Linked DNA regions of Homo sapiens: region 1 is linked to region 2. Evidence: fine-mapped expression QTL. A gene starts in region 2. The other region holds a variant in brackets. All regions are shown on one strand. Distances are between the middles of the regions.

Region 1 (4,404 bases), 570 kb before region 2:
AGGTAATTAAGGTTAAAAAGGTCATAAGAGTGGGGTTCTTTGGTAATCCCAGCACTTTGGGAGGCCGAGGTGGGTGGATCACGAGGTCAGGAGATCGAGACCATCCTGGCTAACACAGTGAAACCCCGTCTCTACTAAAAATACAAAAAGTTAGATGGGCGTGGTGGCGGGCACCTGTAGTCCCACCTACTTGGGAGGCTGAGGCAGGAGAATGGTGTGAACCTGGGAGTCGGAGCTTGCAGTGAGTCGAGATCACGCCAACGCACTCCAGCCTGGGCAACAGAGCGAGACTCCGTCTCAAAAAAAAAAAAAGAGAAAAAAAGAGTGGGGTCCTAATCTGATAGGGTTGGTGGCCTCTTAAGAAAAGAAAGAGACAGCAGAGAGCTCTCTGTCTCGCTTCCCCCTGCATGCATACTCAGAGGTAAGGTCACAGGAGGATTCAGGAAGAAGGCTAGTCACAAGGCAGGAAGAGAGGCCTTGCCAGAAACCAACCCTGATGGCACCTTGACCTTGGACTTCTGGCCTCTAGAACTCTGAGAAAATATGTTCTTGTTGTTGAAGCCACCCAGACTATGATATTTTGTTATGGAAGCCATAGGAGACTAATACAGGGCCTATTTGGTGCCATGCACTGAGCTAAGTGCTAAGTACAGCACCGAATGCAACAGACACAGTTCCTGTACTCAGGGGTCTCTTTCTGGAGGAAGAAGGTAAAGTGTGACAAAAGCTACTGGAGCAGAAAGAGAGTTACCTGTGGAGAATTCAGGGAGGAGTCTGCTTTATTTTGGAGTCAGGAAAGGCCTGCTAAAAGTGATTATTTGATCTCCAAGGTAAGTTCAAAGATGGTAGGGGTTGGGAGGAGGGAAGTTCAGCCCAGGCATGGTGATGACCTGTGAGAAGGCTCCGTGGCAGGACAGGCTTGGTTAGTTTAAGACCCTGGAATAAAGCCATGTGGAGAGCTTACTGGCAATGGAGAGAGACAGGCCTAGTCCACATCACACGGATTCCTGAAGCCGCATCCTGAGGATCATCTTGATCCTAAGAGCTCAGGAAGGATTCTAAATGGGGGAAAGGAAGCAAATTGAAGTATTATGAGGGGACTCTCAGGGTGGGTAAGCAAGTTGGGAAGAATAAGGTCCCTCAGACCCTCCTATCACAACAGCCTGAAGCACTGTTTCCCAAGGCTGGATGGAGTGTGTGGGAAAGATGATTTTTTGTGGAGAAATTGTTATTTTTATATGCCTAGGAAGATCTATCCCTTAGGCATGTTTTGTAATTGCACTTTCTGCAGCTTGCTAGGAAGAAAATGCCTAAATTATTTCAAAGAAAAGTACTTCAGGCATTTGTGGTTTTAGGGCCATCAAGTGCCACAAACCCTACTAAAACAGACCATTCAAAACAGAAAGTGTTGAAAGACATGCATAACTGAATCAGTCACTTAGAAACGTCTTTCTTTGCTTGTCAGCTATAGAAATGGTTGGAACTGATAAATGGCCTGCTGGAGAATTCGGTCTGCTGGTGGTGCGTCTATCCTAGGTGTTAGCAGTGACACTGCTCTGACAGGATTCAGGGCCACATCTCAGGCAAGCTTTGCCCAAGGCCCAAAGTGTTGACTGGAAGATGATCAATTATAGCGAAGCTTGGATGTTGTTGCCAGGTAGTCACACATTCAGCATGAATGTCACTCTCCATTCCAGAAAGGAGCTAAAAGGAGATTAGAGGATGTGGGGGTTGAAACTGTGGCTGTAGGAAGGGGTGAGTGTGGGAAGGACAAGGGGAAAAACATGTCAGGCTACCAGACACTTGGTAGAGTTTATGCAATTAGTTCCTCTTTCCCCCATGCAGCTGAGCCAACTCAAACGAAGCACACAAACCATTCTTCTTAATGCCCCGTGAGCTTCACAAGAGTGACTTTCTGGAACAGAATCAGACGTTTGTATGATTTCCTTCAGTTATTTTTCTTTTTCTTGTGGCCCCTATTCCCTTAGTTGCTACTTTGCCTTGCCTCATCCACCACAGAGCACATCAGAGATATGGATGTAATTCCTAGAAGATTTGAAAACCCTGAACTTGCAGAATCAGGGCATTTCTCCCAGTTGTTGATAT[T/G]ATTTTTGCTTTTTTCCCCCCTCAATTTGGAATGCCCAGCTGGGCCTGGACTGAATTCTCCTCTCTGATCTGTAGCCTGGAGTTTTCTGCATATGCACCCTACCAGTGAGCCCTGCCTGGTTATCAGAGGGAACTCACGCCAGAGAGTAAGTGCAGAGCATGCTCCAGAGGGCTACAGTAAAGGCAGGAGATACATTTGCCCTTTGACTGTAGAGAATAGTAAATTACCACAGATCTATTTAGCTCCATCTGTAGCATTTGGCACACTAACCTAGGAGATGGCTGGAAAACCTGGTATCTTGGAAACTGAATATTCTTTAAATGCAAAAATGGAGGACATGGCTAGAGAAATGGTAGAAGAATTGTTTGAAGGTAGATTGTCATTTTTCAGTGTAATATTTAGACAACCTCTCTGCCTCTCATTCTTTTCTCTCATTGACCTAGTTTTAATTATGCCATATGAAACATGTACTTGGTCTTTACAGCCATAAATTAGTTGCTTCTTATAATCGTTTCTAAATTTGGGGAGAAAAAGTCTTGGGGTGGTCTTTGATCATGTACTGCAAAAATGTCAGAAGACCACAAGAAAAATAGACAAGGTTAAATCCCGTCAAACAAAGTTCCATTTTAGAAAATTTCATATTTTGTGTGTTCATGGCTTCTTCAGTTACAAATGTGGTTAGGTTTCTTAAATTAAGATTGACATGAACCTCTTCCAACTCTTCCTCTGGATTTCAAGGTTTCCTTTAGGTTTTCTACACCTATGCATGTCAAAGAATTGTTCAGCTTGTTCAAGTCCCTGTTTCTCAAATCCTAAGATGAAATTCCGGACCACTATGTCATTGGTGCCTGGATTCTGGAAGGAGTTTTATTTTATTTGTGCGATATGAATGGAAGTGTTATGTGCTTTCTTTAATGGTGAATTAGATTTTCTTTGCTCCTTACACTTTCAGGAGATTCCTATCTCCCTGCCACATTCCTTAATGCCTTTGTTTCAAACATGTGTAAAACATATTCTTTGAAGTGTCTTACTTAGCCAAACCAAACTGGTGTATTACAAAAGAGTATTAAGGCTGTGCTTTAAAACCACCAAGAATGGAAATTATAACGAATTAACTTTCTTTCCCAAGCTAGTCTAAATCATAACTGCCTCATTTTCTATGGTCCTGCAACTATAGCTCTACATCTTTTATTTACCTGTGTCCTCAGATAATTCTAGTTGGTGGGAGGCGAGCACCATTATGCATATTTTACAGTTAAGGAAACAGCATCAGAGATGTTAAGTAACTTGCTTAAGGGAAGTCTGTTAGAGGGACTTAGAGTTGGGATTCAAACCCAGGCATGGCAGCCTGCATTTTTCCCACTCTGTCTCCCTGGCTCTCCTGGAGTCTGTGTTGGCTGCTGGTTGGAGAGAAGGAGATCGAGTGCTATGTTTGGGACCAGTGGGAGACAGCTTTGTGAGATGTCTATATACACAGATGCTAGGGTCAGGTTGATATTTGAAGAGTCACCAATATCAACTCTGTGCATTTTTTTTTCTTATCGGTAAAATGGGGATAATAATGCTATCAACCTCATAGGGCTGTAGTTAGAATTGAATTAAGCCACGTAAATAATTTAGTACCTTGTCTGGCACAGAGAAAATTGTTAGCAACTCTTATTTTATTTCTGTGCCTCCCTCCTTTCCTTCTTTCTTTCCAACATCAATCAGTTCTTGAATACTTAATAAATGCTTGCACACTAGTCTAGATATAGTTAGTAGACATGAGCACAAGGTAGTTCTTGAAACTCAAAGTTCTTAAGCTTAGTGGGGGCAGTAAATTATATAATAATGGGATATACATTACTGTAAAGACATGTGTGATAAATAACCGGTTGTGTAGAATATTCCAAGGTGGAAAAATAATAAGGATATTTGGGGTGGAAGGAACATAATATGCAAAAATATGTGGTGGATGGCTGGATGTGGTGAAGGGAGTGAGAAGTGTGGTCAGAAGTGATGGAAGTTGAGGCAGAAAAGTAGAAGAGTAGGCAGAGAGGGGGGCTGAATACCATACATGGAGGAGTTATTTTATTTACATAGGAAAAGGCATATAATGCTCACCATGTATAAGTCACTGTTCTATGCCATTTACCAGTATTAACTCAATCCTTCTAATAAGCCTACAATGTAAGTAACCCATTTTACAGATGGAGAAACTAAGGTGCAGCCCCAAGTCACTCTGCTTATAATTGGCCCAGCTGGTATTTGAATTCAGACAGGTAGGCTCTGGAGCCCTTGCTTTAGCTGCCTTGCTT
Region 2 (4,404 bases):
ACTTCTTAGCAAACTTCAAAGCTTTCCTGGTTACCCTGCCCTACCATGCTATCTCATTTTGCTAAATTCTGATAGAATTCCCTGCAGCTCAGGCATATTTAATATCACTGATTTTACTGTTGGGTATTTATCTTGTGTATTACATGGTTTGTCTCTTTAACCTGATCATAATCTTCATGAGCTTACTCTCTGAATAACCTGGCTAGTTGTATATTCAAAATAAAGGGCATTGGTAATTGCAATTATAAACACGTGGTTCATTTTGGTAGAGCAATGCTTCTCAACCTGTTCAGGTGATGGAAAAGCATTAAGGTCATCATGCTGTAAAAGGAGACGTCAATATATCTGATTTTATTAACTAGATATATTATCTTACCATACATTAGTTACTATCCCAGAATTTATATATTGTAGATAAGTAATAAAAAGCAACAAAGATTGAAGGAGAAAAAAACTTTGAAGAGGAAATATATAAAAATTATATGAATGCATGTTATTCATGTGTTTTTTCTGTTGTATTTTGCCTTGCTTTGTTTTTTAATAAAGTGGGGAAACATAAAAGCCTTTTAAAAATATTGGTGGCCGGGCGCGGTGGCTCACACCTGTAATCCCAGCACTTTGGGAGGCCAAGGTGGGCGGATTACAAGGTCAGGAGATGGACACCATCCTACCATCCTGGCTAACACAGTGAAACCCCGACTCTACTAAAAAAATACAAAAAACTAGCCTGGAGTGGTGGTGGGCGCCTGTAGTCCCAGCTACTGAGGAGGCTGAGGCAGGAGAATGGCGTGAACCCAAGAGGCAGAGCTTACAGTGAGCCAAGATTGCACCACTGCACTCCAGCCTGGGCCACAGGAGAGACTCTGTCTCAAAAAAAAAATAAATAAATAAATTAAATAAATAAATAAATAAATATAAAAATAAAAAAAGTAAATAAAATAAAATATTGGTGATATTGTTGCTTATATTACTTGGCTTCAAGTCCTTGGAGTTCTATGAAGCCACATTTGGAAACCTCTGTCACAGTGGCAAAATGTTGTATTTATTCTTACATCAACTTGTAAGGTAGCTAATGGCTACAGGTGTTATTAATTACAAAAGAATTCGGACTTGCTCAGTTACTTCGATAGGAGCATGGTCGCAAAATCAGATCTAATCAATTCCAGAGACAATGCTTTGAAGGTTTAGCACTTCTTGTTTTGATCATTGAGATATTTAATCCTATATTCTTATTTTCTTAGAATGCTAAAGAAGCATATAGATAGATTTAAGTGGTAAACAATTTTAATGCTGTTGATATCTCCCTAGAAATTTTTTATCTTTAATTACAATAGAAGGGGGATAAGAAGGCACCAACATTTACTTAGCTCCAGTTATGTGCCAGGTACTCTGCATAACTTAATTGACATTTATTCATTCCTTAACCAATATTTTTCAACAGCTGGCACATTACAAAAAAGTGCACTCTTGTGATAAGCAAAAATAGACATGCTCCCTACATTCATGAAAGGTACATATTCCAGTGTTAGACACTAACCAAATTCATAATTGTAAACAATGCTAGGAAGAAATAATACATAATTTTATCCTCAACAATCCTTTAAAGAAGTACACTGTCCCCTATTCATAAATTAGGAGGTTAAAGAGCTTGTCCAAATCTACAAGGCTAGTAAAGGTCAGCATGGCTGCCAGGTATGGCTCAGCAAGTGTTGCCTGAAACCCTTCTGAGGGCAGGGGGCATTATTCACATCCACTATAATGTAGCTGAGGCTTCTAGAGTTTTGAAGTGTATCACCCGCACAATCATAAGTGTGGCCTTAAGTGAGAGCGGAATCAGCCCTCAGTTTCTCCATTTGTCCCTAATTATTGTAGTTTCTCAGGGTAATTAAATTTGAAATATTTTAGTTTGTTCATCGAACCTACAGTATATTAAAGGTAAAATATGTAGGACAGCATCTAAACAATACCCAATTGAACGGGATACAATTCTCATTCAATTAATAAAAGATTGTTTGAGTGCCTGGTGTCTGTAAAAAAGACAGTATGAAAGATGTTTCCTGGCCTCACACTTGCCAGTAGACCAGGAAAATAAATGAAATGAGATTGACCATCACGCCACAATGCACTTAGAAGGCATTTCACTGCCTGTGAAGAATTTGTTTTTGCCTCTCCTGGCAGCCATATCAGTTGTGAGATGGAAGTTTGGAAGATAGCTAGAATGCTTCGACGAAAAACTTTGAATGATCTAACCTGGGCAATGGTGGATCCCTGCCAATTTGAGGGCATAGGAATATCATGTGCATCACAATGTTCATAATGGTTACTCCAGCAGTGTGAAAACCCATGAAGGAAACTCCAAGACTCAGGGAATCCAATTAGAAAGCTTTCACAAAAGATCGACATGAAGTGACAAGTTCTTGGATTATGGTGGTGAATTTTTTTTTTAATTGGAAAAGCATGTTCTATTTGGAAGAAACATTGAAGTCTCCTTTCCTCCTGGTTTGCTGTAGTTGCAGCTTTGTGTGGCAAGTAACACTTAGTAAATCTTCCTTACTTTTTTACTGTACTATAAATGAACTTTCTTACATAGCTTGTTTCTCAGCCCTTTTTAATTAGAATCAGAATAGGAGAATGGGTATCTCAGGCTGTGAGTAATTTGATATAGAACTTTTCACCTCCAGGTCAGTGGTAAGTGAAACATATTTATATATTTTAAGTGAATTTATTGCTCTTGAAGGGATCCCAGTTGTAATCCTTGACACCAGAACACTTATTGCCAGAAAGCCCACGGGCGTTGAAAACATTGATCAGAAAGTAACAGAGAGAAGGGGTTCAATTTCAACCGTTTTTCACTGTTTGGCTTCCCTTACAAGACCTTCTTAAATTGTTTTAATTAATCCTAGTTATGATTCTATTTTTAAAGGCTGATATCTATCTGATGACAAATTGGATATGAATCAATAAGATGGGCTTATTTCAATTTAGAGTATGAGCTATCCTGTTGCTTAAAAATAATTACCCATATCTGAAAAAGCAAGGAATTTACTACGGTATTCACTTTGCACTAGGGGGAAAAAGGAATGAGTGATAAAAATTGTATTACAAATTTCAGTAATAGGAATATGGCTTTTACAATTAGAAAATAATAGCACTGATTACATTGATCTTGGCATCAAGGGAATTAGAAGTTACTTTTTCTGGATGTGTGTGCCCATTTAACACCCCTAGAAATGACCAGAATGGATTCAACCCTGTCCAATTCCTCAGCTTCCAAGGCAACACATCCATGGCAACAACTAAGCATCATTACAGTTTCTCAAATGTGAAAAAAATAACAATTTCTTAACTCCCTTTACCCCAAGCACATTTTAGGCAATGTAAAAATATAAGAAAAAATTTCAGTTTTATCATCATTGATTATATATATACTCTGTCAGATACATTACTAGAAGATGGGCATATAATAATTAATAAAACAAATTACCTGTGTCTTAGCTTGAAGTACTCTGAATGCATAACCTAGAAAAAGAGCTTGCATGCAGACCATTAGGGACAGGAACCCAAGGGACAGGAATGAGAGAGAATGAAACGCAGGAGGGAAAGCCAAACCAAAAATGAATGCATCGGCCACCACTATAGGCAAATGGTGTTCCATCCTGCCAGACTTTCTAAGGAGGCTTATGAAATGTATTTCAGAATTGTTCACCTGGAAGATAAAATGGAAATGATTTTTTTTTTTTCCGTGGGCTCCGGCTCTCCTATTGTCAAGCGTGACCTAATGGACGTGAACTTCCCCACACTACCAAGTTGTGTGACTGGCACAGACGTGCCATGCAGCAGCATCAGGGAGTCCCTGTGGAACCTAAGAAGGACACTGTCAGGTTCACCTGTGTGAGCTTGGCCAGAACCTACGACAGACTATATGGTGCAGCTGACTGGTGGAAGAGATGAGGCTGAGAAGACACGAAAGGCTTATGGTACACTCTTCCCTTAGGGTACTCAATATTCAATGCATACCACAAAGGCATACCTTCTCTGAAAGAAAGAAGTTAAAGACTTGCATCCTTTTAGAATTATTCTATAAAGTAGATAGGCACAGATTAAATAGATGAGCTTTGGAGTCAGATAAATTGTGGTTTGAACATTCTTGGTAATTCTTGCTCTTTGTGCAGCCTAGATCAACTCATTTAGCATTTTCTCATCGGTAAAAGGGAGGGTGGGGTATGGTAAAATAGTTTCTATTCCATGCAACAATTGTGAATATTAAATGAGATTATGTATAGCACCTAGTCCATTGTTGTGCATAGGTACCATATTAAAAACAAATTTCTAGAGGTGAAGATCGGCAATCTTTCTATTTTCTTACTCCCATCCATATTTATGCATCAAATGATGCCATGAAGC

The links. PIP is the estimated chance that this variant, and not a neighbour inherited with it, causes the effect.
Region 1: its variant is the best candidate, but not a certain one, in a credible set for the expression of LINC01361 in B cells (Schmiedel 2018, PIP 0.64).

The regions. Positions count from the first base shown.
Region 1 is chr1:83,556,725-83,561,128 of GRCh38, reverse strand. The region is part of intron 2 of LOC107985043; the gene reads right to left. Among named protein-coding and RNA genes, the nearest start is that of LINC01712, 110 kb to the right of the region's middle. The variant T/G (reference allele first, on the strand shown) is at 2,107.
Region 2 is chr1:82,984,433-82,988,836 of GRCh38, reverse strand. It overlaps LINC01361 (long intergenic non-protein coding RNA 1361), which reads left to right and starts at 2,629. Exons shown (of 3, transcript NR_110633.1): 1 at 2,629-2,688. All of the region lies in intron 2 of LINC01362 (long intergenic non-protein coding RNA 1362), which reads right to left.